Regions from separate parts of the Homo sapiens genome. Here region 1 is linked to region 2. The links come from fine-mapping of genetic effects on gene expression. A gene starts in region 2. The other region holds a variant in brackets. All regions are shown on one strand. Distances are between the middles of the regions.

Region 1 (15,067 bases), 27 kb after region 2:
CCCAAGTAGCTGGGACTACAGGTGTGCATCACCACCCCTGGCTAATTTTTAAAAATTTTTATATAGATGGGGGGTCTCACTATGTTGCCCAGGCTGGTCTCAAAGTCCTGGGCTCAAGCAATCCTTCTGCCTCAGCCTCCTGAGTGGCTGGGACTATAAGCTTGTGCCACCATGCTTGGCTAATTTTTTTGTAGAGACAGGGTCTCACTAGGCTGCCCAGACTGGTCCCAAACTTCTGGTCTCAAGCAATCCTCCTGCCTTGGCCTCCCAAAGCTCTGATATTACAGATGTGAGCCACTGCACCTGGCTGAGGACTGGTTTTGTCTTTTTTTTTTTTGAAGCTGAGTTTAGCTCTTTCTCCCAGGCTGGAGTGAAGTGGCTTGATCTCGGCTCACTGCAACCTCCACCCCCAGGCTTCAAGTGATTCTCCTGCCTTAGGACCTCCCAAGTAGCTGGGATTACAGGTGCCCGCCAACATGCCCGGCTAATTTTTGTATTTTTAGTAGAGACAGGGTTTTGCCATGTTGGCCAGGCTGGTCTTGAACTCCTGACCTCAGACGATCCACCCGTCTCAGCCTCCCAAAGTGTTAAAATTGCAGACACGAGCCACTGTGCCTTGCCGGTTTTCTCATCTTTAAAATGGCTATGACTATGTGATGTTATTGTGCAGTTGTTGCAAAGATGAAATGAAATATGTAAGTGAGAGCCAGTGGTACCTGGTAAATGTGGGTTTTCTTCTTCTGTCCCTCTTTTCCTCCCCCCAGCCCGCCCTTTCTTCTTTCCTTCCTTCCTGGTCGACATCTCTGATTACAATGTCAGAGAACCAGGAGCTGTAGGACAAAGAAGATAGGGCGACAATCTCCTCCAGGGGACTCAGGGATGGAAAACGCTTCTCAGACTGTTGCAGCAGGTGACAGTCATCTGCTCTGCCCAGAATCTCCTGGCCTCTCCCCTGCTGGATAACTGGCCCCATGCCGGCCCCATCAGGGCATCAGGCCCCTGGACTGAGATAGAAAGTGGATCCCAGGAAGCATATCTCTCGCCCAAAGTCACACTGCTAATGGGGCTGAATATGGGACAAGAACTTTTGTGACTACCCAAGCCAGCTAGCAGGGGGTGGCCTGGGATTCTGGGTAGAGCATTTTTTTTTTTTTAAGAGAGGGGTTCTTGCTCTGTTGCCCAGGCTGGAATGCAGTGGTGACATCATAGCTCACTGCAGCCTCAAACTCCTGGTCTCAAGTGATCGTCCTGTGTCAGCCTCCTGAGTAGCTATGACTATATGCCTGTGCCACCACACCTGGCTAATTTTTTAATTTGTTGCAGAGACACAGATCTTTCTATGCTGTCCAGGCTGGTCTTGAACTCCTGGCCTCAAGCAACCCTCCCACTTTGGCCTCCCAAAGTGTTGAGATTACAGGCTTGAGCCACTGCCTCTGGCCCTAGGGCAGTAGTTGTCTGTCTCTTATTTATCAGTGCCAGGACCTACCCTGGGAATATTCTGTTCACTCTTCCCTTGTTGGGGGCCCCCTTCTCCAAGGTCAGCTTAGCTAACTTCAAAGAGGAGAGACAGAGCCACCTTGCCCCTAAGTTTCAGGAGTGAGAAAGATGGGTGGGGAGGGGGTGGAGGTGGGTGAGGTGGGCGCAGGACACATGGACACCCATGAGCTGACCTGGGAGGTTGGGGGTCAGCCAATGTAATCCCCTCTTGTGTGTTTCTCCCTGAATGCAGAGAATGCACCACCCATGTTGCTTCCAGACCTCCTCCCAGCTCTGCTCAACAGTCCAGGCGAGCCCATTTAACCCCAGGTTACAGGTGTGCAGAGTGAAGCCCGGAGGAGGACAGGGCTTGCCAAGGTCACTGACAGTAGTGGGAACAGAAACCAGGGCTTTGGAGCCAAGATGCTTGGGTTTGAATATCAGCTTTGCCGTTCCCAGGCTGTGTGACCTTGAGCCAGAGCCTTGACCTCTCTGAGCCTGTTTCCTCATCTGTAAAATGGAGATCTTTTCCTTCTCTGGTTATCAGGAAGAAGGAAACAGTGCCAGAAAAGCTTGTGCAGTGCCTGGCTTGCAGTAAATGCATAGCAAACCCCAGTTCCTCTTCCTCTTCTCCTATCTGAACAGCAATCCTAAGCCTGCACGTCCCCTCTCTCTTCCCTCCTCTGCCCCACATCTGTAGCCAAAACTTTTTCTTTGGCCCTAACCAGAGAGTGAGGACTGCACTAATGATGGCCTCTCCCAGCCCCTGACAAACCCAACACATGTCTAAGCTTGCATTTAGCCACCACAGGGCTGGCAGCAGGGCCAAAGACAGCCCCGGGGAGGGTACCCAGGGAGGGCCATTGCCTGAAGGCACTAGAGACTCTGGGCAAGTGTGGCTGCAGGAGCCTCGGAGACATGACCTCTCCCACTTCCACGCTTCCAGTCCACTCTTCCATCCCACTCTACAGCCTGCAGAAGCTCATATGCCAGCCCTCCACTTCAGCTGACAAACATCATCTCCACCAGTGCCACCCCTATATCGGCCAGAGGATTTCAATCACAGGATTCCAAGACACCAGGCGGATGCTTCCTGGACCCTGGCTCTGAGCTGCCCTCCCATGTGGTCCCCAGGCTGAGTCCCAACCCCAGCCTGAGCCCCAACCCTGATTCTAAACTGAGCCCTGGCCTGGCTCAGCCAGCAGACTGTGTCCTTAGGGGGCAATTAGGGAGAAGTGAGATGGGTCATCTTCTCAAGATGGGGAAACTCCTGGCTACTACAGCTCAGACCTCTTCTGGTATTACAGAATCTTCCTCCTCTCCCAGAAGCTACCCTAGGCTGAGGAGCTGAGCTTCCCTGGGGCGGACCTGAGATTCCCAGACCTGTATTCTGAGACTTCTCCTGCATCTGAGGGCCTGGGCAGGACATGGGGCAGGGGAGTTGCTGAGTGTAAGATAAGTTCTTGGGCAAAGTGGGGACCAGCTCAGCTCTCATAGATCCCTGGTCCCCCTGACTTCCTGACTCAGCTGACCCTGTAACACCATCCCCCTTGTGAAGGCCCAGAGGGACTTGGTTGGAGTGGGCCACACTGTCCCCCAAAGCAACCTGGTGTTCCGTTTTACTCTGTCCCCATCTCCACACGAGTGGCCCAGGAACAGTAAACCTTCCCATGTCACGGAGGGAGAGCCAGGCCCAGAGACGGAAAGTCGTGCGCCCAAGGTCACACAGTCAGACACAGACAAGAACCCAAAGCTCCCAAACCCAGCCCAGAGGTGGGGGCAGGGTGGCTGGGAGGAAGCCCTGGCTTTCCCCCCTGGGCAGAGCAGCAGGAGTGCCGGCCACCACTTCTGTGGCCCCCACCTGTTGGCTAGAAGCCTAGGGGCCAGAATCCACATACCCCACCCTGCCATCTCCCTTCTTTCTGTCCCAGCCAGGGGCAGTTTTGGTCCTCCTCATCCCAGGGCCCACCTGGACAGGGTTTCTCCACTGGCATGTCACCTGCCCAGGGCAGGGAGAGCCAGAGGGAGGAAGGCCCTCCCTCCTGACTCCCTGGGCCCCCTCTCAGCTCCTGGGAGAACCTCCCAGACCAGGATGGAAGCCCAGCCCAGTCCAGCCAGTGGGAGACACGGGGCTTCCAGGACCCGTGTGCACTTCACCTTCTAGCAGGATGAATTCTTGGATTCCTGATCCGGAGTCCTCCCTGGGGTACGAGTTTGCCTCCTTCCTCCTGGCAGCTGAGGCTGAGCGAGGAGGCCACATAAGCCTATGAACCCCTTCAACCCAGCTGAGCCAGAGACGCGCGCCTCTATGGGCAGAGGGGAAA[C/G]TGAGGCCCAGCACAGAGGCGGATCCAATTCCCCTTGGGTGAGGCCCCTGCACCCACCTGATGACGCGGGGGCTCCACGCCCTCACCTGGAATCCGCTCGACCTGCAGAGGGGCGCGGCGCGGCCAGGGGCGGGCGGCGGGCGGCGGGGGCGCTGCGGGGATGCTTGGGACCGCCGGACCGCGCCCGGCGCCTTCTCCGCGCGGGCGGCAGAGGGCTCCGTGCGCTGCGCCGCGGGCCCGGCTTTTAGCAGCGGGTGTGGACGCGGGCACCCCCGCCCCGCTCCGAGGTGTCCTTTGCCCCTTGATCTGGTGCCTCCTTCTCTCCTTAGCACGTGGGCGGCAGCCGCTCAGCCGCTCAGAGGCCTGTGGGGCAGCCATGGCCCGGGCCCTGGGCTCGGGCGCCTGCCAATCCCCGTCTGCCGCCGGCTCGTGCCCGCTCACCTTTAACCCCCTCTACTTTCCCCGGGGGCTCGGTGCCCGGCCCCCAGCCGCGGGCTGGGCTCGGGGAGGGAGGAGCCGCAGGTGTGGGGCCACCCCAGGTGGGCAGAGAAAGACGCTGGGACCGCCTCGGGCTCCTCCCAGAGCCCCAGCCCGGCTTTGAACCTCCTCCTAGTCCCTGAGTCCCCCCAGCACTCTCTCTCACTCTCATCCCTCACTCTTACTCTCTTCTCTCCCCGCTTTCTCTCTTTCTCTCTCTCCCCCTCCCTTTCCTCTCCCTCTCTCTTCTCTCCTCCAGGCTCCTCTCTCCCTCTCCCCTCACTTTCTCTCTACCCCCTCTTCTCTCTCCCCCTTCTCTCATCTCTCTCATTCTCCCCCTTCCTCTCTTTCCCTCTCTCTCTCCTCTCTCTCTGTCTCTCACTCTGTCTCTCTCCTCTATCTCTCTCACTTTCTCTTTCTCTCTCTATTCCCCTCCTTTTTCACTCTCCCCCCTCTCTCCTCTCTCTCTCTCATTCTCCCCCTCCTCTTTCTTTCTCTCTCTCTCTCACACTGTCTCTCTGTCCCTTGTCTCTCCCTGCCCCGTCTCTCTCCCTCTGTCTTCTCTCTTTCCCTCTGACCCTGGCTCTCCTCTCTCTCTCCCACCCTCCTCTCTCTCTCCTTTACTTTCTCTCTATCCCCTCCTCTCTCTCTCCTTTCTCTTCTCTTTTTCTCTCTCCCTCTCTCCCCCCTCTCTCTCTCATTCTCCTCCCTCTCTTTCCATCTCTCTCCTCTCTCTGTCTCTCACTCTGTCTCTCTCCCTCTCTCTCCTCTCTCTCTCACTTTCTGACTTTCTCTCTCTCCCCCCTCCTCTCTTTCTCCCCCCTCTCTCTTTCTCTCTCATTCTCCCCCCTTTCCCTCTCTCTCCTCTCTCTCTCACTCTGTCTCTCTCCCTCTCTCTCTCCTCTCTCTCTCTCACTTTCTCTCTGTCTCTACCCCCTCCTCTTTCTCTCTCTCCCTCTCTCTCCTCTCTCTCTCTCTCATTCTCCCCCCTTGCCTTTCTCTCTTTCCCTCTCTCACTCCCTCTCCCCCTTCTCTCTCCCTTTCTCTTCTCTCTTTCCTTCTCTCTGTCTCTCACTCTGTCTCTCCCCCTCCTTTCCCCCCCTCTCTCTTCCTCTCCTCTCCCTCTCTGTCTCTCCCTCTGTCTCTGTCTCTCTCTCTCTCTCACTGTCTATCTCCTGTCTCTCTCTCATCTGGCTCACTGAGCCCCATTCATTCCCTCTTTGACCAGCTTCATCCCATGCTCCCTCTGAGTCCCCCCTCAAGCCCCCACCCTCCCTGCCCTTGACATCACATCCCCTCCCTAAACCCCACTCCCCTCCCTGAGCCCCCATTCCTCACCCCTCCCTGAGGCCCTTCCTGCCTTCCGGGGCCCACTGACTTCCCCTCTCTTGCTCTTAGTGCTGTGTCCTCTCAACTCTTTTTTTTTAAGCAATGGGTTCTCACTATGTTGCCCACGTTGGTCTCTATCTCCTGGTCTTAAGCAATCCTCCCACCTCGACCTCCCAAAGTGCTGGGATTACAGGTGCAAGCCACTGGGCCTGGCCCAGACTCTTACATTTACTCCACAAACATCCTTAAACACCCTTGGCGTAGCAGCCCAGTGAGAGAGCGGGATAGGCCAGCGGTGGTATCAGTTTCAAAGTCCAGGATGGATGCCTCCAAGTCCTCAGAGGTCCTGTGGAGTAGGCACCACCTGGGAAGGGGGCATTCAGGACCTCAGCTTGCCTGCCAGCTTCAAGGGGCCGTGTGGGGTAGAAGGAAGGATCCCCCTGGCCACCGCTCGGCCAGGAGCGGGCAGTGTGGGATGGAAAGAAGAAAGGGCTTTCACAGCCACCCTACCCAGCAATGAGGCAGCTTCCTCCCAGCCCCACGGGCTTCCTTCCTTCTACGGCTAGCGGGGGGCAGCAGAGGCAGAAGGGATCCTGCCAATAATGCCCCTCAGAGTCCCCTGGTGATGGCAGGAGGTAGAGCGCAGGGGGAAGGCCGGGGGCATGCCGGAGGATGAGGCTGAGCCCGAGCCCAGAAGAGACCCTGAGTTGATCAGATTCTGCCCACACACCATTTATTTGTTTTGAGACAAGGTCTCGCTCTGTCACCCAGGCTGGAGTGCAATGGTGCAATCTCAGCTCACCGCAACCTCCGCCTCCTGGGTTCAAGTGATTCTCCTGCCTCAGCCTCTCAAATAGTTGGGACTACAGGTGCATGCCACCACGCCCGGCCAGTTTTTTTGTACTTTTAGTAAAGATGGGGTTTTGCCATGTTGGCCAGGCTGGTCTCAAACTCCTGGCCTCAAGTGATCTGCCTGCCTCGGCCTCCCAAAGTGCTGGGATTACAGGTGTGAGCCACTGCGCCCAGCCCCACACCCCATTTGGAATTCACTCTGCCTGAGGGTGGGCGGTGGTGGTGGAAGGGTGCATCTTGAGAAGGAAGCAGATGAAGACACCTCCTGCTTCTTCCACCTGCCTCATACGTCCTGGTGGGTCAGCTTGGCCTTCTCTGCCCACTGTTTCCTGTCTTGCATGAGTTTCTTGTCACGTGACCTCCTACTAGTAGGCTTCAGTCTGCTACCTTGGACAGACACCTGTTCATGGCCAGCGCCAGGACCCAGAGTCAGCGTGTGTGTGTGTGTGTGTGTGTGTAAAGGAAGTGGGGCTTGAGCCACCACCACATTGACTGGCTCTGCAACTGGGCATGATACTGATACTCCATCTCCCAGGGCCTCAGTTTCCCCATACATAGGGTTGGTGGATTTAGCAAATACAAATCCAGGATGCCCCATTAAATTTGAATTTCAGATACACAATGGCTTTTTTTAGTATAAGTATGTCTCATGCCATATTTGTGGCATACTTATACTAAGAGATTATTCATAATGCTTATCTAAAACTCAAATTTAACTGGGCATCCTGGGTTGACCCTACCCATATGTAAAACAGGAGAGGCAGGGAGGTATGAATAAGATGTTCTCCAGTGGGGCATGGTGGTTCATGCCTCTAACCCCAGCGCTTTGGGATACTGAGGTGGGAGGATCGCTTAGACACCAGGAGTTTGAGACCAGCCTAGGCAACAATATAGTGAGACCCTGTCTCTAAAAAATAAAAATATAAAAGATGCTCTCTCTCATGAATGCTCTTAGCTCCAGCTACACCCTGTGAAAAACCTCAGGTCTACCTGAAAGTGGTCCAGAGATGTTTGTTTGTATCCCTTGCAGAGGAAGAGGAGAGCTGGGGGAAGATAGGAAGTAGGGTGCAGGACTCAGCTGTGGTCACAGGGCATCAAAGAGAAGAGGCAGAAAGAAGAAGTTCCTAGAGGCAGTGCAATCCTGGAGGGCTTTCTGAAGGAGGAAGATTTTCATGGTTACTTTGATGCTGGAAAGGAAGGGAGGTGGATTAGGGGGCCTCTGGTGGAGTGCTCCCTGACTTTAATGGAGGTGGAGAGGCATGGAGGGTCTCCTCTTTTTTTCTGAGAAAGAGAGTTTCACTTCTTAGCCTGGGCTGGAGTGCAGTGGGTCCACCATGGCTCACTGCAACCTTGAACTCCTGGGCTAAAGTGATCATTCTGCTTTAGCCTCTTGAGTAGCTGGGATCACTAGTAGGCTCCAACACGCCCAGCTAATTTTTGTTTGTTTTTGTAGAGACAGGGTCTCACCATGTTGTCCAGGCTGGCCTTGAACTCCTGGGTTCAAGCAATCCTCCTGCCGTGGCCTCCCAAAGTGCTGGGATTACAGGTGTGAGCCACTGTGCCTGGCTGTGAAGATCAATATAAAGTATCTTCCCCTTCATATGAAGAGTACCTATACCTAGGGCAGTCTCTCTTCGACCCAACAAGTTACTATCACTTTTTTTTTTTTTTTGAGACAGAGTTTCACTTGTGTCGCCCAGGCTGGAGTGCAGTGATCTCGGCTCACTGCAACCTCCACCTCCCAGGTTTAAGCGATTCTCCTGCCTCAGCCTCCCAAGTAGCTGGGATTACAGGCACCCACCACCACGCCTGGCTAATTTTTGTATTTTTAGTAGAGATGGAGTTTCTCCATGTTGGCCAGGCTGGTCTTGAACTCCTGACCTCAGGTGATCCGTGTGCCTCGGCCTCCCAAAGTGTTGGGATTACAGGCATGAGCCACCATGCCTGACCCCAGTACCACTTCTTTTTTTTTTTTTGAGATGGAGTCTCGCTGTGTCTCCCAGGCTGGAGTGCAGTGGCTCAATCTTGGCTCACTGCAAGCTCTGCCTCCCGGGTTCACGCCATTCTCCTGCCTCAGCCTCCTGAGTGGCTGGGACTACAGGCGCCCGCCACCACACCTGGCTAATTTTTTGTATTTTTAGTGGAGACGGGGTTTCACCGTGTTAGCCAGGATGGTCTCGATCTCCTGACCTCATGATCCGCCTGCCTCGGCCTCTCAAAGTACTGGGATTACAGGCGTGAGCCACCGCGCCCGGCCCCCCAGTATCACTTCTGACTAACATTTACCAAACACTTACTACTTGCCAGGGTCCCGCCCACACCTGCTAAGCTGTTTATGTGGGTTAATCATTTAATCCCTTCCACAACCAGATGAAGTGAGTGTGTTTCCCCCACTTTACAGAAGAAGAGACAGAGGCACAGGGAGGTTGGGTCATTTGAGGTTCATACTGGCCGTAAGCGGCGGAGCTGGAATTTGAGCCCTGGTGTCCTGGCTCTCTGTACCTGCCGTGTGACAGATCCTGAGCTGGAAGCTGGAACTGGAGAAATGACATAAATGCCATCCCTGCCCTCAGAGGACCTCTGGTCTAACAGTGGGGACAGGTTAGTCTCTAAGAACTCCAGTACAGGGCAGGCTGGCATCAGAGCTGTGAGGGAGCGTGCCGGGAAAGGACTGATTCAGTCTGTGCATGAGGGGAAGTGGAGGCTAGGATGAGAAGGATGAGTCAGTTCTACAACAACCTTCAGCTTTAGGATCAGACATTGGGAGAAATAGTATTCCTTTCTCTTTTTTCTTTTCTGTTTTCTTTTTTTTTTCTTTTTTAGATGGAGTCTTGCTCTGTCACCCAGGCTGGAGTACAGTGGCGCAATCTCGGCTCACTGCAATCTCCACCTCCCAGGTTCAAGCGATTCTCCTGCCTCAGCCTCCCGAGTGGCTGGGATTACAGGTGTGTACCACCACCCGGCTAATTTTAGTATTTTTAGTAGAGATGGAGTTTCACCATGTTGGCCAGGCTGGTCTCAAACTCCTGGTTCTCTCCCGCCCAGCCGGGAGGAAGAGCATTCTAGGTGAAACTACGTCTTGAGCTAAGGCAGAAGAGGTGTGGAAATGCAGCATATGATTGGGGAATGGGCCAGCCACAGTGGCTCACACCTGTAATCCCAGCACTTTGGGAGGCTGACATGGGAGGACAGCTTGAGCCCGGGAGTTCAAGACCAGCCTGGGCAACATAGTGGGATTATACCTTTATAAAAAATAAAAATAAATAAATCAGCCAGGCATGGTGGTGCATGGCAGTAGTCCCAGCTACTCGAGAGGCTTAGGCGGGAGGATTGCTTCAGCCCAGGAGGTCGAGGCTGCCGTGAGTCGTAATTGTGCCACTGTATTCCTGCCTTGGTGACAGAGTGAGAACCTGTCTTGAAATAATAATAATAATAATTGTGAGTAAAAAAGCCCCCCAGAAAGTATATACTATATGATTCATTTACGTAAAATTCAAGAAAATGTAGGGTAACCTGTAGTGAGACAAAGCAGATTAGAAGTTATTGTAATCAGCTGGGCGCAGTGGCTCATGCCTGTAATCCCCGCACTTTGGGAGGCCGAGGAGGGCAGATCACCTGAGGTCAGGAGTTCAAGATCAGCCTGGGCAACACAGTGAAACCCCGTCTCTACTAAAAATACAAAATTAGCCAGGTGTGGTGACACATGCCTGTAATCCCAGCTGCTCGGGAGGCTGAGGCAGGAGAATCGCTTGAACCTGGGAGGTGGAGGATGCGGTGAGCCGAGATCGCGCCATTGCACTCCAGCCTGGGCAACAAGAGTAAATCTCCGTCTCACCAAAAAAAAAAAAAAAAAGAAAAAAAAAAAAGAAATTGTAATTGTAATCCCAGCACTATGGGAGGCCCAGGCAGACCTCCCTCACTTGAGGTCAGGAATTTGAGAGCAGCCTGGGCAACATAAAAAGACCCCATCTCTACTAAAAATACAAAAAAATCAGCCAGGCATGGTGGCACACACCTGTGGTTTCAGCTACTTGGGAGGCTAAGGCATGAGGGTCACTTGAAAGCCGGAGGAAGAGGTTGTAGTGAGTCAAGATATCGCCACTCCAGCCTGGGTGACAGAGCGAGACTCTGTCTCAAAAAAAAAAAAAAAAAAAAGAAAGTAAATCTTTGTGGGCCAGGTGCAGTGGTTTACACCTGTAATCCCAGCATTTTGGGAGGCTGAGGTGGGTGGATCATCTGAGATCAGGAGTTCGAGACCAGCCTGGCCCCGTCTCTACTAAAAATACAAAAATCAGTCAGGCATGGTGGCAGGCACCTGTAATTCCAGCTACTCAGGAGGCTGAGGCAGGAGAACCACTAGAACCCGGGAGGTGGAGGGTGCAGGAAGCCATGATCACACCGCTACACTCCAGCCCGGGCAATACAGCAAGACTCTGCCTCAAAAAATAAATAAATAAATAAATCTTTGTGACTTTGATTTAGAAAATTGTTCTTTAGATAGGACACTAAAGCACAAGCAAGAGAAGAAAAAATAGGTAAAATGGACTTCACCAAAATAGAATAAAAAACGTTTGTGCTTCAAAAGACATCATCAAGAGAATAAAGATAACCTACAGAGGGGAACTAAATTGCAAATCATATATCTGATAAAAGACTAGTTTCCCAGAAATATAAAGAACTCTTACAATATAAAGATAGCCCAATCAAAACATGGGCAAATTGTCTGATCATTGCAATGCTATTCACAATAACAAAAACATGTAATTAAACCAGGTGCCCATCAATGGTGGTTTGGATAAAGAAAATGTGGTATGGATACACCATGGACTACTACACAGCCATAAAAAGGAAGAAAAACCATGTCCTTTGCAGCAACATGAATGCAGTTGGAGGCCATTATCCTAAGCAAACTAGCACAGAAATAGAAAATAAAATACTGCATGTTCTCACTTATAAGTGGGAGCTAAACATTGGGTATATATGAACACAAAGATGGTGTATTAGTCCATTTTCACACAGCTGATAAAGACATACCCAAGACTGGGTAATTTATACAGGAAAAAGGGTTTAATGGACTTACAGTTCCACGTAGCTGGGGAGGCCTCACAATCATGGTGGAAGGCGAGGAGGAGCAAGTCACGTCTTACATGGATGGCAGCAGGCAAAGAGAGCTTTTCAGGGAAACTGCTATTTTTAAAACCATTGGATCCCCTGGGACTTATTCACTATCACAAGAACAGCAGGAGAAAGACCTGCCCCCATGATTCAATTACCTCCCACCAGGTCTCTCCCACAACAGGTGCGAATTCAAGATGAGATTTGGGTGGGGACACAGCCAAAACATATCAGATGGTAACAATAGACACTGGGGACTATAGAGAGGAGAGAGAGGGAGACAAGGGCAGAAAAACTACCTTTTGGGCACTATGCTCAGTACCTGAGTTCAGTCATACTTCAAACCTCAGCACCACGCCATATACCTCATAAAAAATCTGCACATGTACCTTCTGATTCTAAAAGAAAATTTGAGGCCGGGTGTGGTGGCTCATGCCTATAATCCTAGCACTTTTGAGTGGGTGGATCACTTGAGGTCAGGAGTTCAAGACCAACATGGTGAAACCCCATCTCTACTAAAAATAAAAAATAATTAAAAAAAAAATTAGCTGGCGTGGCGGAGTGCACCTGTAGTCCCAGTTACTCGGGAGGCTGAGGCAGGAGAGTTGCTTGAACCAGGGAGGCGGAGGTTGCAGTGAGCCAAGATCCTGCCACTGCACTCCAGCCTGGTGACAGACAGAGCAAAACTCCGTCTCCAAAAAGGAAAAAAGAAAAGTTGGGGCCGGGCGCAGTGGCTCATGCCTGTAATCCCAGCACTTTGGGAGGCCAAGGTGGGTGGATCACTTGAGGTCAGGAGTTCGAGACCAGCCTGACTAACAGGGTGAAAACCCCGTCCCTAGTAAAAATACAAACATTAACTGGGTGTGGTGGCGGGCGCCTGTAATCCCAGCTACTCGGGAGGCTGAGGCAGTAGAATTGCTTGAACCTGGGAGGCAGAGGTTGCAGTGAGCAAAGATGGTGCCACTGCACTCCAGCCTGGGTAACAGAGCCAGACTCCATCTCAAAAAAAAAAAAAGTTGAAAAAGGAAAAATAAAAACAGAGGCAAAGGGTCTTAATACACATTTTTACAGAGAAGATCTACAAATGGCCGATAAGTACCGTACATGAAAAGATGTTTGACATCATTAGTCATCAGAGAAACACAAATCAAATTATGAGATGCCACTTCACACCCACTAGGGTGGCTATAATTAAAAAAGACGGGAAGCTAGTGTTGGCAAAGAAATTGGAACCCTTGGCTGGGTGTGGTGGCTCAACCTGTAATCCCAGCCCTTTGGGAGGCTGACGTGGGAGGACCACTTGAGGCCAGGAGTTTGAGACTAGCCTAGGCAACATAGTGAGACCCCCATTTCTACCAAAAAAAAAAAATGTAAAAAATTAGTCAGGCATGGTGGTGCGCACCTGTAGTCCCAGCTACTCAGAAGGCTGAGGCGGGAGGATCACTTGAGCCCAGAAGGTTGAGGCTGCAGTGAGCCATGAACACACCACTACACTCCAGCCTGGGGGACAGAGAGACACCCTGTCTCAAAAATATAAAATAAAATAAAATAAAATAAAATAAAATGAAATAAAATAAAATAAAGAAATTGGAACCGTTGTGCTTTGCTCGTGTAAATGTAAAGAGGTACAGCTGCTTTGGAAAGCAGTCTGGCCCTTTCTCAAAAAGCTAAACATAGAGTTATCATATATTCACTCCTCAGTATATACCCAAGAGAAACGAAAACATATGTCACACAAAGATTTATATGCGAATGTTCATAGCATTATGCATAATAGCCCCAAAGTGGAAAAACCCCAATGTTCACCAACTGATGAGTGGGTAAACAACTTATGGTACGTTCATTATAATAGAATATTATTCAGCCATAAAAAGCACAACATACATACACAAAATATTATTCAGCCTTAAAAAGGAATGAAGTTGGCCAGGTGCAATGGTTCAGGCCTGTAATCCCAGCACTTTGGGAGGCCGAAGCAGGAGGACCACTTGAGGTCAGGAGTTCGAGACCAGCCTGACCAACATCTTGAAACCCCGCCTCTACTAAAAATACAAAAATTAGCTGGGCATGGTGGTGCATGACTGTAATCTCAGCCACTTGGGAGGCTGAGGCAAGAGAATCGCTTGAACCTGGGAGGAGGAGGTTGCAGTGAGCCAAGATCATGCCACTGAACTCCGGCCTGGGCAACAAAACGATACTCTGTCTCAAAATAAATAAATAAACAAATAAATAAATAAAACAAAAAATCAGCCAGGGGCCGGGCATGATGGTTCATGCCTGCAATCCCAGCACTTTGAGAGGCTGAGGTGGGTGGATCACTTGAGGTCAGGAGTTCGAGACCAGCCTGGCCAACTGGTGAAACTCTGTTTCTACTAAAAATACAAAAAAAAAAAAAACAAAAAAAAAAAACTTGGCCAGGTGTGGTGGCACGCAGCTGTAATCCCAGCTACTCGGAAGGCTGAGGCAGGAGAATCACTTGAACCCGGGAGGCAGAGGTTGCAGTGAGCCAAGATCACACCACTGCATTCCAGCCTGGGCGACAGAGCAAGACTCCATCTCAAAAAAAAAAAAAAAAAAAATTAGCCAGGCACGGTAGCATGTCTGTAGTCCAGTGACTCAGGAAACTGAGGCAGGCAGATTGCTTGAGCCCAGGAGTTTGAAGCTGCAGTGAGTTGTGATGGTGCCACTGGACTCCAGTCTGGACGACAGAGCGAGACTCCGTCTCAAAAAAAAAAAAAAAGAAAGAAAGAAAACATTATACTGAATGAAATAATCCAGTCACAAAAGAAAAAATACTATATGAGTCCATTTATATGCGGTATCTGGAGTAATCAAATTCATAGAGACAGAAAGTAGAATGGTGCGTGCCAGGGGCTGTGGGGAAGAGGAATGAGGAGTGAGTGTTTCATGGGGATGGAGTTTCAGTTTGGGAAGGTGAGGAAAATTCTGGAAGTGGATGATGGTGACGGTTGCACAACAATGTGAATATATTTAATGCTACTGAGCTGTTCATTTAAGTGGTTTAAAGGATAAATTTTATGTTACATATATTTTACCACAATAAAAAAATCAAAAGGAATTAGGTACTGATAAATGCTGCACTGTGAATGAATCTTGAAAACATTATGCTGAATAAAAGCAGCCAGTCACTGGCCGGGGGCGGTGGCTCACGCCTGTAATCCCAGCACCTTGGGGGCCGAGGCGGGAGGATCACGGGGTCAGGAGTTCGAGACCAGCCTGGCCAACATGGCGAAACTCTGTCTCTACTAAAAATACAAAAAGTAGCTGGGTGTAGTGGTGGGCGCCTGTAATCCCAGCTACTTGGGAGGCTGAGGCAGGAGAATTATTTGAACCCGGAAGGTGGAGGTTGCAGTGAGCTGAGATCATGCTATTGCACTCCAGCCTGGGCGACAAGAGCAAGACTGTCTCAAAAAAAAAAAAAAAAAGCCAGTCACGAAAGACCATATATTATATGATTCCATTTATAGGAAATG
Region 2 (15,941 bases):
CCTCCCGGCTTGGGAGGCTGGTGGTAGCCACTCACACTGGATATACCAGGCCCTCCAGATGGCGTTGTTCAGGCGGATCTTGTCTCTGCAGAGCAGCTTGAGGCCTTTGAAATTCTTCCACTTGGGAGACACCAGCTTGCCACTGTCAAAGGGGAGAGGAGTAGGGTTAGGGAGATGCAGTGCTGCCACAGAGGCTGGTCCCCATATTCCCCATGCACTAGGCATCCATCTATGGTTGGCATTTGAGGGGCCCCTCCAAATCTGGCCCCCCAACCCAACCTGCCTGAAATTCCTATCCAGAGAGTCAGACCTTCAAAATCCCCTTCCAGACTCCCACCAGCGGCCCCTGTGTTCCCTGGGGAGACCTGTTTGTCAGTCTACTGCAGAACAAAAGCCACGCTGAAACCTGTGGATCAGCTCGGCCCTGGAAGCAACAATGTCCAGTGGCCTCACAGGTGTGTCTTGGAGGCTGGCTGGGGACAGTGCTCAGGCCCATTTCTCATTTAAGAGAATAAGAAATGACCTTCCTGGGCTGGGTGCAGTAGCTCACGCCTGTCATCCCAGAACTTTGCGGGGCCAAGGCGGGTGGATCGCCTGAGGTCAGGAGTTCGAGACCAGCCTAGTCCAACATACTGAAGCCCTGTCTCTACTAAAAATACAAAATTAGCTGGCTGTGGTGGCGCACACCTGTAATCCCAGCTACTCAGGAGGCTGAAGCAGGAGAATTGCTTGAGCCTGGGAGGCGGAGGTTGCAGTGAGCTGAGATCACACCGTTGTACTCCAGCCTGGGCAACAAGAGTGAAACTCCGTCTCAAAAAAAAAAAAAAAAAAAAAAGACCTTCCTGAGAGTCAGGGAGGAAAGGGGCAGGTCCGAGGTCACTCAGGCCTCCTTAGGCCCAGGAGAGGCAAAGGGGATGGCCATGGTTTGCCTGGTAGAGAGGGAGCCTCTGTGTTTTGTTTTGGTTTGGTTTGGTTTTTTTTGGTTTGCTTTTGGTTTTGAGACGGAGTCTCAGTCTGTCATCCAGGCTGGAGTGCAGTGGTGAGATCTCAGCTCACCACAACCTCCATCTCTTGGATTCAAACAATTCTCGTGCCTCGGCCTCCCGAGTAGCTGGGATTACAGTTGTGCGCCACCACGTTCAGCTAATTTTTTTGGTATTTTTAGTAAAGACGGGGTTTCACCATGTTGCCCAGGCTGGTCTCAAACTCCTGACCTCAAGTGATCTGCCCACCTTGGCCTCCCAAAGTGCTGGGATTACAGATGTGAGCCACCATGCCCAGCCGAGGGTGCCTCTTTATAGAGAGTGGCAGTCACTGCCTTCATGGTACAGTCCTTTTGGTGTCTGCCATGCCCAGAATCCCAGGGTGGCAACCTGGACTCAGCGAGAAGGTGTGCTCTTCTCAGGGCTGCACAGAAGACAATGAACCAACAGATCCCAAAGGAAGGCCGCTAGGATGAGCAAATGGTATTCATGGAGACAGAGCACCCTCACTCTAACCCTAGCTGTCCATCAAATCCACAGGATGGGCTGGGCGCGGTAGCTCACGGTTGTAATCCCAACACTTTGGGAGGCCAAGGCGGGAGGATCGCTTGAGCCAAGGAGTTTGAGACCAGCCTGGGCAACATAGCAAGACCCTGTCTCTACAAAATAATTTTAAAATTAGCCGGGTGTGGTGGCATGCACCTATAGTCCTAGCTACTAGGGAGGCGAGGTCAGAGGATTTCTTCAGCCCGGGAGTTTGAGGCTACAGTGAGCTATGATCACGCCACTGCACTCCAGCCTGGGCAACAGAGCAAGATCCTGTCTTGAAGGAAAAAAAAATCCACTGGATGGAAGAGCTTACACTGGTGAGGGTCCTGCTAGGCACAGGCCAAGTCTTCTGCCTCCAGGAAGCTGAGCCAGGAGGCCAAGACATTCAGGGTCTTAGACCCCCTGCTAGTCTCTCCCTCCCTCTCTCGTCTCCATCCACAAGCCAGGGTTGTGTACCAGTCCCCTCTAGCCCGCCTTTTGCATCCCTTACTCAGATCTCAGATGGGAAGGCTGAGGCCCCAAGTCTTAGCCATTTTTTCATTTTTTTGAGATGGAGCCTCATTCTGCCACCCAGGTTGGAGTGCAGTGGCATGATCTTGGCTCACTGCAACTTCCGTCTCCCAGGTTCAAATGATTCTCGTGCCTCAGCCCCCTGAGTAGCTGGGATTACAGGCATATGCCATGACACCCAGCTCACTTTTGTATTTTTAGTAGAGACGGGGCTTCATCATGTTGGCCAGGCTGGTCTCGAACTCCTGACCTCAAGTGATCCACCCACCTTGGCCTCCCAAAGTGCTGGGATGACAGGCGTGAGCCACCGCACCTGGCCCCCAAGGCTTAGTCTTTCAGAAAACCATACCTGCTTCCTCCAGGGGTCTTTCCTACATTCTGGGGGTGAAATGTGGGTGGGTGCCAGTCTGACTCCGCAGCCTCTCCCTACTTGAGTGCATTGGTCATTGGGCCCTCTCTCCTCCCTGGTCTCCAAGTTCCTGTGTTTGCTTTGGGGTGGGGGTGGGGGACTGCCCCCTCCCCACCAGGGACAACAGGCCTCATTACCCAAATAAGATACACAGCCCAGCTCTCTGGGCCACTGGCTGGGCCCCTCCCTCTGAGAATTAGATAAACACCATCTGTTTGGTAGGGAGACATGGAGGTGGGGGTGGGGGGAGACTCTGCTACCTCCTGGGCCAGCTTCTTCTGTGGCACCTGGTGGGGGACTCCTGAGTCTGTTGTCCCTGTCTGTATCCCAGCAACCTCCCAGCCCATTCTGATCACCCCGTGTCGCACCCTTGACCTGCCTGCCTTCTCTCCCGCTTCCATGCTAAGGTTATGACGTTCATGGCCCAGGCAGGGTTAGAGCAGATGTGACAGTGACAATATCCAAGCCCAGGAGGAAGAAAAGGATTTGGGGCTGTGAGAGAAGAGACTCAGCCTGGAGGAAGAGCGTAACGCTAGGGTTCAAGAACTTTTTATGACTGGCTGGGGATGGCTCACACCTGTAATCCCAGCACTTTGGAAGGCCGAGGCAGGAGGACTGTAGGAGGCCAGGAGTTTGAGATCAGCATGGGCAACATAGTGCAACCCTGTTTCTACAGTTAAAAAGTTAGCTGGGGCCAGGCACAGTGGCTCATGCCTGTAATCCCAGCACTTTGGGAGGCCGAGGTGGGTGGATCACCTGAGGTCAGGAGTTCGAGATCAGCCTGGCTAACAACGTGAAACCCCGTCTCTACTAAAAATACAAAAATTAGCCGGACGTGGTGGCAGGCGTCTGTAGTCCCAGCTACTTGGGAGGCTAAGCCAGGAGAATGGCGTTAACCCGGGAGGCGGAGTTTGCAGTGAGCCGAGATTGTGCCACTGCACTCCAGCCTGGGCGACAGAGAGCGACTCCATCTCAAAAAAAAAAAAAAAAAAGTTAGCTGGGCATGGTGGTGCAAACCTCTAGTCTCAGCTACTCAGGAGGCTGCAGTGGGAAGATCGCTTGAGCCCAGGAGTTCAAGGCTGAAGTGAGCTGTGATCACACCACTGCACTCCAGCCTGGGCAACAGAGTGGGAACCCGACTCATAAAAAACAAGTAAATTCTGGTTGGGCGCAGTGGCTCAAGCCTGTAATCCCAGCACTTTGGGAGGCCGAGATGGGTGGATCACAAGGTCAGGAGATCGAGACCATCCTGGCTAACGCAGTGAAACCCGGTCTCTACTAAAAATACAAAAAATTAGCTGGGCGTGGTGGCAGGTGCCTGTGGTCCCAGCTACTCGGGAGGCTGAGGCAGGAGAATGGTGTGAACCCGGGAGGCAGAGCTTGCAGTGAGCCAAGATCGCGCCACTGCACTCCAGCCTGGGCGACAGAGCAAGACTCCGTCTCAAAAAACAAACAAACAAAACAAAACAAAACAAAAACTTGTTATGACCAATAGAAAAGTCTGATGAGGAGCAGTGGTGGGCCTGTAACCTAAGCACTTTGGGAGGCTGAGGGGAGAGGATCGCTTGAACCCAGGAGTTCAAGACCAGCTGGGCAATACAGTGAGACCTTATCTCTATTTAAAACTATTAATAGGGCCAGGCGCGGTGGCTCACGTCTATAATCCCAGCACTTTGGGAGGCCAAGGCAGGCGAATCACCTGAGGTCAGGAGTTCAAGACCAGCCTGGCTAACATGGAGAAACCCCGTCTCTACTAAAAATACAAAAATTAGCCGGGCATGGTGGTGCGTGCCTGTAATCCCAACTACTCGGGAGGCTGAGGCAGGAGAATCGCTTGAACCCAGGAGGCGGATGTTGCAGTGAGCCGAGATCATGCCATTGTACTCCAGCTTGAGTGTCACAGCGAGACTCTGTCTCAACAACAAACAAAAAACAACAACAACAACAACAAAAACTATTAAAAGAAGAAAAGAGCTGGGCCCAGTAGCTCACACCTGTAATCCCAGCACTTTGGGAGGCCGAGACGGGTGGATCACAAGGTCAGGAGTTCAAGACCAGCCTGGCCAACATGGTGAAACTCCACCTGTACTGAAAAAAAAAAAAAAAAAAAGCCGGATGTGGTGGCAGGCGCCTGTAATCCCAGCTACTCAGGAGGCTGAGGCAGAGAATTGCTTGAACCCGTTGGGTGGAGGTTGCAGTGAGCTGAGATTGCGCCACTGCACTCCAGCCTGGGCGACAGAGTGAGACTCCGTCTCAGAAAAAAAAAAGAAAAGAAAGAAAAAGGCAGGACACGATGGCTCATACCTGTAATCCCAGCACTTTGGGAGGCTGAGGTGGGCAGATCACTTGAGGTCAGGGGTTCGAGACCAGCCTGGCCAACATGGTGAAACCTCGTCTCTACTGAAAATTAAAAATTAGCTGGGGATGGTGGCACATGCCTGTTACCTCAGCTACTCTGGAGGCTGAGACATGAGAATCGCTTGAACTCAGGAGACGGAGATTACAGTGAGCTGAGATCATGCCAGCGCACTCCAGCCTGGGCAACAGAGTGAGACTCTGTCTCCAAAAATAAATAAATAAATAAATAAATAAATAAATAATAAGAAGGAGAAGAAAACTCTGAGACTTAGAGAGGGGGTTGAGAAAACCCCAAGTTCAGCTGCCCACCTCCCACCTTTCAGGAATTCCTTTTAGATTGCCCCCTAACCAGGTCCTGTTTGCTCCCCTGCACCCTCAAGGCCACTCTTCCTAAAGCTAGCCAGCTCTGACCATGAACAAGTGCTTCCTTGAAGCTTCCAGAAACTACCTCCCTGGGGCTTCCACCCACGGAGCCATGGAAGACGGCCTCCTCGATCCTCCCTCTGCCCACGCTAACCTGCAGAGGGTGAAACCTTGCCAGGCCTCTGCAGGCTGGTCTCTGGGTCAGGCTGGTCCCTGATTCAGGTGGGTCCCTGGTCAAGCTCGCTGTTCTTCCCACCACCTTCTGAACTCTCTGCCTTACTGTCTCTTCCCATATAGTCACTCCCCTGGGACACTCAGCTCCTGTAATCTGCTCCCCTCCAGGGGACCCCTGGAACTGGGGGTCTTTGAGGATGAAAACACTGTCCCAGTTCAAGCCTCAGGGCTTTTCCACTACCAAATGGGGAAATCTAGAAGCTCTCCTGGTACCGAGCCAACCCTCCATCTCCCTCCATCTCCCTCCCTCCCTCCATCTCCCTCCCTCCCTCCATCTCTCTCCAGCTCCCTCCCTCCCTCCATCTCCCTCCCTCCCTCCCTTCCTCCCTCTCTCCCTTCCTCCCTCCCTCCATCTCCTTCCCTCTCCCTCCCTCCATCTCCCTCCGTCTCCCTCCCTCCATCTCCCTCCCTCCCTCCTTCTCCCTCCCTCCTCCATCTCCCTCCCTCCATTTCCCTCTATCTCCCTCCCTCCCTCCATCTCCCTCTCTCCATCTCCCTCTCTCCATCTCCCTCCCTCCTTTATCTCCCTCCCTCCTTCCATCTCCCTCCCTCCCTTCCTTCCTTCCTCCCCCCATCTCCCTCCCTCCCTCCCTCCCTTCCTTCCAACAAGGTCTCACTCTATCACCCAGGGTGGAGTGCAGTGGCACCATCATGTCTTACTGGAGCCTCAACCTCCTGGGCTGAAGTGATCCTCCCACCTCAGACTCCCCAGTAGCTGGTACTAGGAATGTGCCATCACACCTGGCTGATTAAAGAAAATTTTTTTTGGCCAGGCATGTTGGCTCATGCCTGTAATCCCAGCACTTGGGGAGGCCAAGGCAGGTGGATCACCTGAGGTCAGGAGTTTGAGACCAGCCTGGCCAACATGGTGAAATCTCGTCTCTACTAAAAATACAAAAAATTAGCTGGAGGTGGTGGGCGCCTGTAATCCCAGCTACTCAGGAGGCTGAGGCAGGAGATTCTCTTGAACCCGGAAGGCAGAGGTTGCAGTGAGCTGAGATGGCACCACTGCACTCCAGCCTGGGCAACAAGAGCAAAACTCTGTCTCAAAAAAAAAAAAAAATTTTTTTTTTTTTGGTAGAGACAGGTTCTCAGTATGTTGCCCAGGCTGGTCTCCAACTCCTGGGCTCAAGCAATCCTTGGATGAGAACCTTGGCCTCCTAAAGTGCTGGGCTTACAGGCAGGAGCCACTGTGCCCAGCCAGAGATTTACTATTAATATTTGGGTATTTGGGAAGAAAACACAGTCCTCTCTACCCCAGCTATCTCTGACTGGGGTTACATCAGCCTTGAGTCAGCCTCTGGGTGGGGGGGCAATTTTGGGGGTGCGCTCTGTCCCTTACCTTGCCAGCTCCCCAGAACCTCTCCTCTTTGGTCACCCATCGTCAGGGTTGGAAGTGAGGCCCCCTCCCAAATAGAGTGATGTGTAGTATATAATGAGCAGCCAAAGTTGGGGTTGGGTGGGAAATGGGAGACCCTTAGGAGGAGGAGTGCCGGCATCCGGTGTACCAGGACCTTAGATGCCCTGTCCCAGGCAGTCGCGTGACATTTGGGGAGGGAGGGAGAAGGGACGGGAATTTGAACTTTCCACACGGGTCCGACGCCCTGGCCGATCGGGTTGCAACATGACCTGGGCCAGGGGCCAGAGCTTGTGGGCCAAGGTTACTCCGCCTCCAGCCAATGGGGTCGCAGCTGGGCGGCTGCGGTTGGGGGCAGGCAACACTCCCCTCACAGTCCCCACCCCAGCTCCTGCTCCCCCGCAGGGCGGCAGGTGCCGATCTGTAGCCAGCGGTTCTCAGAAGGGGAGGAGGCGCCGCGGAGGAAGAGGAATATTTGCACAGAGAAAAGATCAAGGCCGGCCGATCCCCCTTTCTCCCCTACGGGTTTTCGGTTGATAATTTATACTGGCCCCTCAACTCCGGGGAACTTTGCTCCAGGGCACTGGGCCAGGCCTCGGGTTCGCGCCCTCCTCTGGGACGCGGGGCGTGGAGCGGCAGCGGGGCGCGGCCTGTGCGCTCTCGGTGGCACTAAGCGGGGGTCCCAGGCAGCGACGGGCGCTCAGCCTAGTGTGGCGACGTGGGTAGGCGAACCCAGGCCTCCCGGGCACCGGCGTAACCTCTGCGAGCTGCGCCTCTTGGACATTTCTGGGACATCCTCCTCCCGCCACCCTTAATGTAGCAGATCAAGAAGAGGTGTCTCAGCAATTGCGGGGAGGTGGACGTGAGAGTGGGCCAGTTCCAGTCCACTTTGGTTATGAACTGGGACAATCAGGGGCGCTGGGAGTATCTCAGGGTCCAGGAATAGGGCGGGCTTGGGCCGGGGCTGCTGGGGAGAAGGCCGAGGCCTGCAGGGGGTCGGGTGGAGTGGCTCCAGAGTGGAGAGTGGGGATGGGCGCGGGTGGCCTAGGGACCAGGGGCGCCTGGCATTTTTGTAGGGACGGAGGGGCTGGGACCAGAGAGAGGGGACCAGAGGTCCAGGTAGAGGTGGGGCGCAGGCGGTCTGCGCTTCGGGGAAGAGGGAATGGGGGAGGAATGGGAATCAGAAATGCGTGGGTCCGTCAGGGGCCAGCGGGCTGGGCCGCTGTAGGAGGACCTCGGGGCTGGGAGAAAGGGGGTGTCCAGGGCGTGATCGGAGCCTCCGGGAGCCGCAGGACCGGGCTCGGGTGGGGTGTTGAGGGCCCCAGCGCGCAGTCCTGCCCCGGACCCCCCCCCCATCCCCACCTGGAAGCCAAGGCCGTCAGGGCCCGGAACCGCCCTCACCTGTAGGCCAGGCTCAAGCACTCGAAGAGGCGTGTGAGTGTGGGGTCGATACTGCGCGGCCCGAAGTCGGAGGGCCCCACGGACCCCTCCTGGTCGCGCCGCCGGGGCAGCGAGTCGCTGTGCGGCGACGACACCATGAAGTGACCGCTGTGGATGACCTGCGAGCGGAGCAAGCCGCCCGCGCTGCGCCGGAGACTCGGGTCCTCCGAGTCTGTGTCCGAGTCCGAGTCTGGGCTGGGCGCGACCCGCGGGACCTGCAAGCCCGCGGCCAGACCTGCCAGCGCGCCGGCCATGGCTGTCGCCGCCGCAACCGCCTGGTCCCTGCTCCGCGCAGCGCGGGGAACAGCTCTTGGCCAGCCGGGCCTCATTAACATAGCCCCGCCCCCACACCATAGGCCGATCGGGTGGGCGGGGCCTGGGACGGGGCGGGGCTTGTATTAGCATAATCCTTACGCCAGGTGAGAACCCGGTGCTCTGGAGCTCTGGCGGGTTGGCCCCATCTCCCTTCCCGTCTTTCCTTGGAGTCCTGATAGAGCCGCCCCTACTTTGCTCCAAAGGGATATTAAGAAAGGTCAGGCCGGACGCCAGGGGCTCTTGCCTGTAATCCTAGCACTTTAGGAGGCCAAGGCGGGAGGATGGCTTGAGGTCAGGAGTTCGAGACCAGCCTGAGCAATATGGCAAGACCCCCATCTCTACCAAAAAAATGCAAAAATTAGCCGGACATAGTGGAGAAAGCCTGTAATACCAGCTACTGGGGAGGCTGAGGTGGGAGGATTCCTTGAGCCCAGGAGTTCGACAATATGGCAAAACCCTGTCTCTACCAAACATACAAAAATTATCCAGGCATGGTGGCGTGTGCATGTAGTCCTAGCTACTCCGAAGGCTGAAGTGGGAGAATCGCTTGAGACCAAGAGGTTGAGGCTGCAGTGAGCGGAGATCGCGCCACTGCACTCCAGCCTGGATGACAGAGTGAGACCCTGTCTCCACAACAAAAGGGTCCCCTATCACACCTGAGCCTGAAAGCGCCTCAGGACCTGGGGTTTGTTCTTTCAGGGGCACCCTCCTGTGAGGCCAGAGATCACCATCTCCCCTCACCTAACTCCTGCCCTTCACCTCCAACCCCCGCCCCCCATATTAGCTCTTCTGGGTCCTCCACATAGGTAGAAGCCCCCAACTCTCAGGGGCCTGATGTGGTAAGCCCAAGGTAATGCCCCTGAAGGGCCTGGCCCACAGGAGGTTGCTAACACCTCTAGTTAACATGGTGGCCAACACGGTGGCCGGGCGCGGTGGCTCTCGCCTTCAATCCTAGCACTTTGGGAGGCCATGGTGGGTGGGTCACTTGAGGCCAGGAGTTCGAAACCAGCCTGGCTAACATGGAGAAACCCCTTCTCTACTAAAAATACAAAAATTACCGGATGTGACGATGCGTGCTTGGCTTATAATCCCAGCTACTCGGGAGGCTGAGGTGGAAGAATCACATGAGCCCAAGAGGTGGAGGTTGCAGTGAGCCGAGATCGCGCCCTACTGCACTCCACCCTGGGCAACAGTGAAATCCTGTTTCAAAAACAAAATAAAATACTTAAGAAAAAATATATATTAAAAAAATTGTGATCATTACTTCACCTGCACAGAGAGGCCCAAGGGGAGCCTCGAGGGACTGTTACTGGTAGGGATGGGTGGCTCACTGGAAGGTGGACATCCCCTAGGCAGGCATCTACCCAGGAGCTCTGAGCCCCTTCTCTCACTGACACTGAGGTCCAGCTTTTGTTCCTGCTTCTTTGTATTTTTATTTATCTATATACTTCTATTTATTTATTGTTTTGAGACGGAGGCTCACTCTGTCACCCAGGCTGGAGTGCAATGGCACGATCTCGGCTCACTGCAACCTCTGCCTCCCTGGTTCAAGCGATTCTCCTGCCTTAGCCTCCTGAGTAGCCGGGATTACAAGTGCCCGCCACCATGCCCAGCTAATTTTTGTATTTTTAGTAGAGACGAGGTTTCTCCATGCTGGCCAGGCTGGTCTCAAACTCCTGACCTTAAAGCGATTTGCCCACCTCAGCCTCTCAAAGTGCTGGGATTCCAGGCATGCGCCACCGTGCCCAGCCTATTTATATATTTTTAGAGACAGGGTCTCGCTCTGTCACCCAGGCTGGAGTGCAGAGGCACGGTCATAGCTCACTGCAGCCTCAAACTCCTGGGCCAAAGCGATCCTCCCACCTCAGCCTCCCTAGTAGCTGGGACTACAGGCTCATGCCACCAAACCTGGCTAATTTTTTTTTTTTTGTAGAGATGAAATCTGCTTCAGCCTCCCAAAGTTTTGGGATTACAAGTGTGAGCCACTGTACATGGCCTTTCTGCTTCTGAAGCCTCTTTTCTCACCTTGAGGACAGAAACCAGACTGAGGCATTCACACCTGACACCTCACTGGAGCGTTTAACTAACAGCCTCAAAGATGGGTTCAGAGGCACAGGAGAGCAAAAACACACCCAAGCATCTCTGAGGGGCAGCAGCAAAGCCTGGTCTAGTAGATTTCCAGATTTCCCCCAAGGATGTCCCTAGTGGGTGGGGACAGGAAAGAGTTGTAGGCACATGCTAAGCTCTGCTGGCTTTCTGACAGGTATCCTGTGTGTGGTCATGTTAGGGAAAGCGGAGGAGGTGGTTTCCCATGTGTGGCAGCCTTGGAAAAGGTTGACATGCAGCACTTTCTTCCAGCCCACAGGAGGATCACACAGCACCTAGGATCACAATGGCAGTGCCCTGAGGGCCCCAGCCACTGGCTGTGGGAGGAAAGTGATTATCCAAGGCTGCTCACAGGCCAGCCCTTCCACCCACCTCCCTTGGCCGGGTATCTTCTGTCTCTGCCAAATGTTCGCATCACATTCCCAGGAGCCCCAGCTGTTCTGCTCCATCCTCCCTGCTGCCCTCTGTAGGATGTGCATTCTCTCTGCCCATCCCTGCCAGGTTAGGAAAGGGGGTTCTGATGCTCACCCCACTCTCCCTCCTTTGGAGGGGCTCTGCCCTGCTTCAGAGAGCCATCCCCAAGTGGCCCTCTTTTTTTTTTTTTTTTTTGAGCCAGTCTCAGTCTGTCACCCAGACTGGAGTGCAGTGGCATGATCTCAGCTCACTGCAACCTCCGCCTCCCGGGCTCAAGCGATTCTCCTGCCTCAGCCTCCCAAGTAGCCGGGATTACAGGCGTGTAACACCATGCCCGACTAATTTTTGTATTTTTAGTAGAGATGGGGTTTCACCATGTTGGCCAGGCTGGTCTTGAACTCCTGACCACAAGTGATCCACCTGCCTCAGCCTCCCAAAGTGCTGGTATTACAGGCGTGAGCCACCGTGGCCAGCTCTCAGGTGGCAGTTAACCGTCTTTTGAGGCCCTTGGTACAGAGGCTGACAGGATCATTACTTACCCCTATATGCCTGTCTGGCTTCTCCCCCTATTCCTCCGTAGGCCATTGAGGCAAGACTGTGTCCTAGCATCTCTGAACCCCCACACTGGGTACCTGGAGACTTGGGGGATGCTTGAAGAAAGGGGCATGAGACTAAGAGGAGCGGGTGGGGTGCTGTGGAGGAGGTTGGATAGGAAGTGTCAGCTCCGCCCTCGCCTCTGGCTTGGGACCTCCTGGCTCCGGGGACCCTGGCTCAGGTGAAGACCGGAATTGATCCTTGCTCTGCTGCTAATTCCATGAGTAACACTGGGGAGATCTCTGTCTCTCTGTCTTACTGGCGATCTGTCTCACTACCTGTAAAATTGAGGGCCAAACTCAGTGCTTTCTTTCTTTCTTCTTCTTTTTGCTGTTGTAAAGATGAGGTCTCACTATATTCCCCAGGCTGGTCTCGAGCACCTGGGCTCAAGCGACCCTTCCACCACGGCCTCCCAAAGTGCTGAGACTACGGGCATGAGCCACTGTGCCTGGCCTGAATTCAGTGATTTGTTGGGGATCCAGGAATCTTGGCTCCAAGTCTCTGCTGGCCGTGTCTCCAGATCACCCCACCGTGCTCTCCCCATGCTCTGAAAACATCAGAGTTGTCTCCTGCGGTTTCAGGGACTTTCCTCTGAGCTGGATCTGAGCGGGTGGGAAGATTATGAGTGAATTCTCTCCTTCACCCAACATCCCTCCTTCCCCAGCCATGAATTGCCCCTCAACAGGCATCTGCATCTCATTTCTGCCCTCCTCCAGGGCTTAATAACACCTCTAGAAGCCTAACCGCTGAAAAGACAAACCCTGACTGCACAATGCAAAACATCCAAACACTAGAGTGTCCAATAAATGCAAGGACGTCCACAGATTCTGATTTCTCCTGTGTTTAGAGACAGGGTCTCGCTGTGTCACCCAGCCTGGAGTGCAGTGGCACAATCATAGCTCACTGCAGCCTCAAACTCCTGGGCCAAAGTGATCCTCCCACTTCAGCCTCCCAAAGTGTTGGGATTAGAAGTGTGAGCCACTTGTAATGGGACCACAGGCGCCGCACCCCCTGTTCAGGGCACCATTGCCCAGATAATAGCACAGCCATGTACATGTAAGCTGGCTCACGCTCTTGCTGCTTCTCTAGCCTCTGTTACTATAGCCAGCAGTTTACAGCCTCTGTACAAACAAGTCTTGTTCATGGTCCATGGAGATGCAAGACAAGATCCTAACTGTGGTGTGAATACCTGGCTGTCCCCAGCCATCCCACCTGATGTCACATCCTCTCTGCCTTCCAGTCTTGGTCCTCAGGGCTCTTCACCCAGCCTGCCCTTCCTTGTTGGGAAAGCCCACCTGTCCTTGAAGTCCCACCTATGACATCTTCCCCAAGTTCTCCAGGTTATTTCTGAGTTCCCACCACCCTTGTTCTTTTCTTTTCTTTTTTTTTTTTTGAGACCAAGTCTTGCTCTGTCGCCCAGGCTGGAGTGCAGTGGCGTGATCTCAGCTCACTGCAACCTCCACCTCCCGGATTCAAGCGATTCTCCTGCCTCAGCCTCCTGAGGAGCTGGGATTACAAGGGTGCACCACCACGCCTGGCTAATTTTTGTATTTTTGTAGAGACGGGGTTTCACCATGTTGGTCAGGTTAATCTTGAACTCCTAACCTCGTGATCCACCCTCTTCAGCCTCCCAAAGTCCTGGAATTACAGGAGTGAGGCACCGTGCCTGGCCGCACCACCCTTGTTCTAATATAAGTCTAATTTCATTCAGCTTTGCATTCACAGTGATGACGCACGTGCTTTTCCTCCCCACTAGATGGCAAATTCCTTGAGAGCAAGAATCACTGCTGGGCGTGGTGGCTCATGCCAGTAATCCCAGCACTTTGAGAGGCCAAGGGGAGGATTGCTTGAGCCCAGGGGTTCGAGACAAGCCTGGACAGCATAGCAAGACTCTGTCTCTACAAAAAATTAAAAAATTAGCTATTTGTGGTCTTGTAGTTCCAGCTACTTGGGAGGCTGAGGTGAGAGGATCGCTTGAGCTCAGGAGTTGGAGGCTGCAGTGAGCTATAAACATGCCACTGTACTCCAGCCTGGGTGACAGAGTGAGAACCTGTCTCTTAAAAACTAAAAGGCACGTTCATAAATTATTCCATTTACTAGTGAGCCTGTCAACTGTGTGTATATGTGGGTGTGTTAGAATTTTCATTGCCATTTTACAGATGGGGAGACTGAGACTCTGAGAGGTGAAATGATCTGGCGGATTGTGGTGAGAATTAGCTATATAAAGCTAACCTTTATGGAGCACTTACCACCTAGCAGGTCCGCAGGATCTTCACAACAGCCCCTTGGCTTGTCTTTTTTATTATTTTTATTTATTTATTTATTTATTTATTTATTTATTTATTTATGAGACGGAGTCTTGCACTGTTTCCCAGGCAGGAGTGCAGTGGCACGATCTCAGCTCACTGCAAATTCCGCCTCTTGGGTTCACGCCATTCTCCTGCCTCAGCCTCCCAAGTAGCTGGGACTACAGGCGCCCGCCACCACTCCCGGCTAATTTTTTGTACTTTTAGTACAGGCGGGGTTTCACTGTGTTAGCCAGGAAGGTCTCGATCTCTTGACCTCGTTATCTGCCCGCCTCGGCCTCCCAAAGTGCTGGGATTACAGGCCAGCTTGTCTTTTTTTTTTTTTTTTTTTTTGAGATGGAGTCTCACTCACTCTGTCACCCAGGCCAGAATGCAGTGGCATGATCTTGGGTCATTGCAAGCTCTGCTTCCTGGGCTCAAGTGATCCTCCCACCTAAACCTCCCGAGTAGTTGGGACTACAGGCGTGTGCCACTATGCCCACCTAATTTTTGTATTTTTTGTAGAGATGGGATTTTGCCATGTTGGCCAGGCTGGTCTTGAACTCCTGAGCTCAAGCAATCCTCCTGCCTTGGTCTCCCAAAGTGCTGGGATTACAGGCGTGTGCCACTGTGCCCGGCCTACCCTTTGATTTTCAACACATTTTGCAGATAAGAAAACAACCTTTGCTGAAGGTCACATGATAAGAAGAGAACTGGGATTCAAACGCAGACAATTGAATGCCAGCCTGTTCCACAAGTACCTATGTTCTCAAACTCAAAGGGCTGGCCATTGTGCAGGAGGATGTGGTACGAGCAGACACTCATCTACTGCTCCTGCCAGTGGAGGCAAAATCACTTTGGAAAGGTATTTGGCAGCATCTACTAGCATTGAGCATCTCCCACCTTAGTTAGAACCCAGCAGTGTGCACACATGTGCACCAAAACACAAGACTATTCGTGGCAGCACTGATCTTACTAGCCCAACACTGGAGATGCCCCGGATGCCTATCAACAGGTGAATGGATAAATACATTGCAGAACAGTCACACTAGGGAATACTTTTTTTTTTTTTTTGAGACGGAGTCTTGCTCTGTCACCCAGGCTGGAGTGCAGTGGCATGATCTCAGCTCACTGCAAGCTCCATCTCCTGGGTTCATGCCATTCTCCTGACTCAGCCTCCCGAGTAGCTAGGACTACAGGTGCCCGCCACCACGCCCAGCTAATTTTTTTTGTATTTTTAGTAGAGACTGGGTTTCACTGTGTTAGCCAGGATGGTCTTGATCTCCTGACCTTGTGATCTGCCTGCCTCGGCTCGGCCTCCCAAAGTGCTGGGATTACAGGTGTGAGCCACCGCACCCGGCCCACACTAGGGAATATTAATGCAGCAATGAGAATGAACACTCTACAGCTAAGTGCAGCCCTATGGGTGAATCTCACTGATTATGTATTAAACAAAAGAAGCCTGACACGGAAGTGTATATGTTGTAAGATTTCATTCATATAAAGCTCCAAAATAGGCTCATCTATGGTGTTAGGAGTCAGGGTTGCATTTAGCCTCAGGGTGACTAGAAGGGCTCAAGAAGAGAGCTATGAAGGATGTTGCTACTTTTTTTTTTTTTTTTTTTTTTTTTTTTAGGTAGAGATGGGGTCTGCTATGCTGCCTAGGCTGGTGTCAAACTCCCAACCTCAAGTGATCCTCCCACCTCAGCCACTCAAAGTACTGGGATTACAGGCACGAGTCACTGTGCCTGGTCAAATTTTCTTCCTTTCCTTCCTTCTTCCTTTCCTTCCTCTCTCCCCTTCTCCCTCTCTCCCTCTCTCCCTCTCTCTCTCTTCTCCCCTCCCCTCCACTCCCTTCTCCTCTCTTCTCTCCAGTCTTGTCTTGTCTTTTTTCTTTTCTTTCCTTTTCCCTTCCCTTCCCTGCCCTCCCCTCCACTCCCCTCTCCTGTCTTTTCTTTTCTTTCCCCTCCCTCCCCTCCCCTCCTCTTCTTTTCTCTTTTCTTTTCTTTTCTTTTTTCTTTTCT

Direction of the effects. Positions count from the first base shown, and alleles are read on the strand shown. Sizes are in standard deviations (SD) of each study's normalised expression.
For the expression in lung of the gene that starts at base 8,487 in region 2, allele G in region 1 goes with a higher level than allele C (moderate effect, 0.47 SD a copy in GTEx).

The links.
Region 1: its variant is fine-mapped to the expression of MLXIPL in lung (TOPMed, PIP above 0.99). The same link has a PIP of 0.9 or more in caudate, cerebellar hemisphere, cerebellum and putamen.

The regions. Positions count from the first base shown.
Region 1 is chr7:73,643,889-73,658,955 of GRCh38, forward strand. It overlaps a transcript of MLXIPL not described here. Among named protein-coding and RNA genes, the nearest start is that of VPS37D, 16 kb to the right of the region's middle. RefSeq lists silencers at 4,183-4,252, 4,293-4,342. The variant C/G (reference allele first, on the strand shown) is at 3,801.
Region 2 is chr7:73,616,036-73,631,976 of GRCh38, forward strand. MLXIPL (MLX interacting protein like) reads right to left here and starts at 8,487. Exons shown (of 17, transcript NM_032951.3): 1 at 8,165-8,487; 2 at 36-142. The coding sequence starts at 8,457.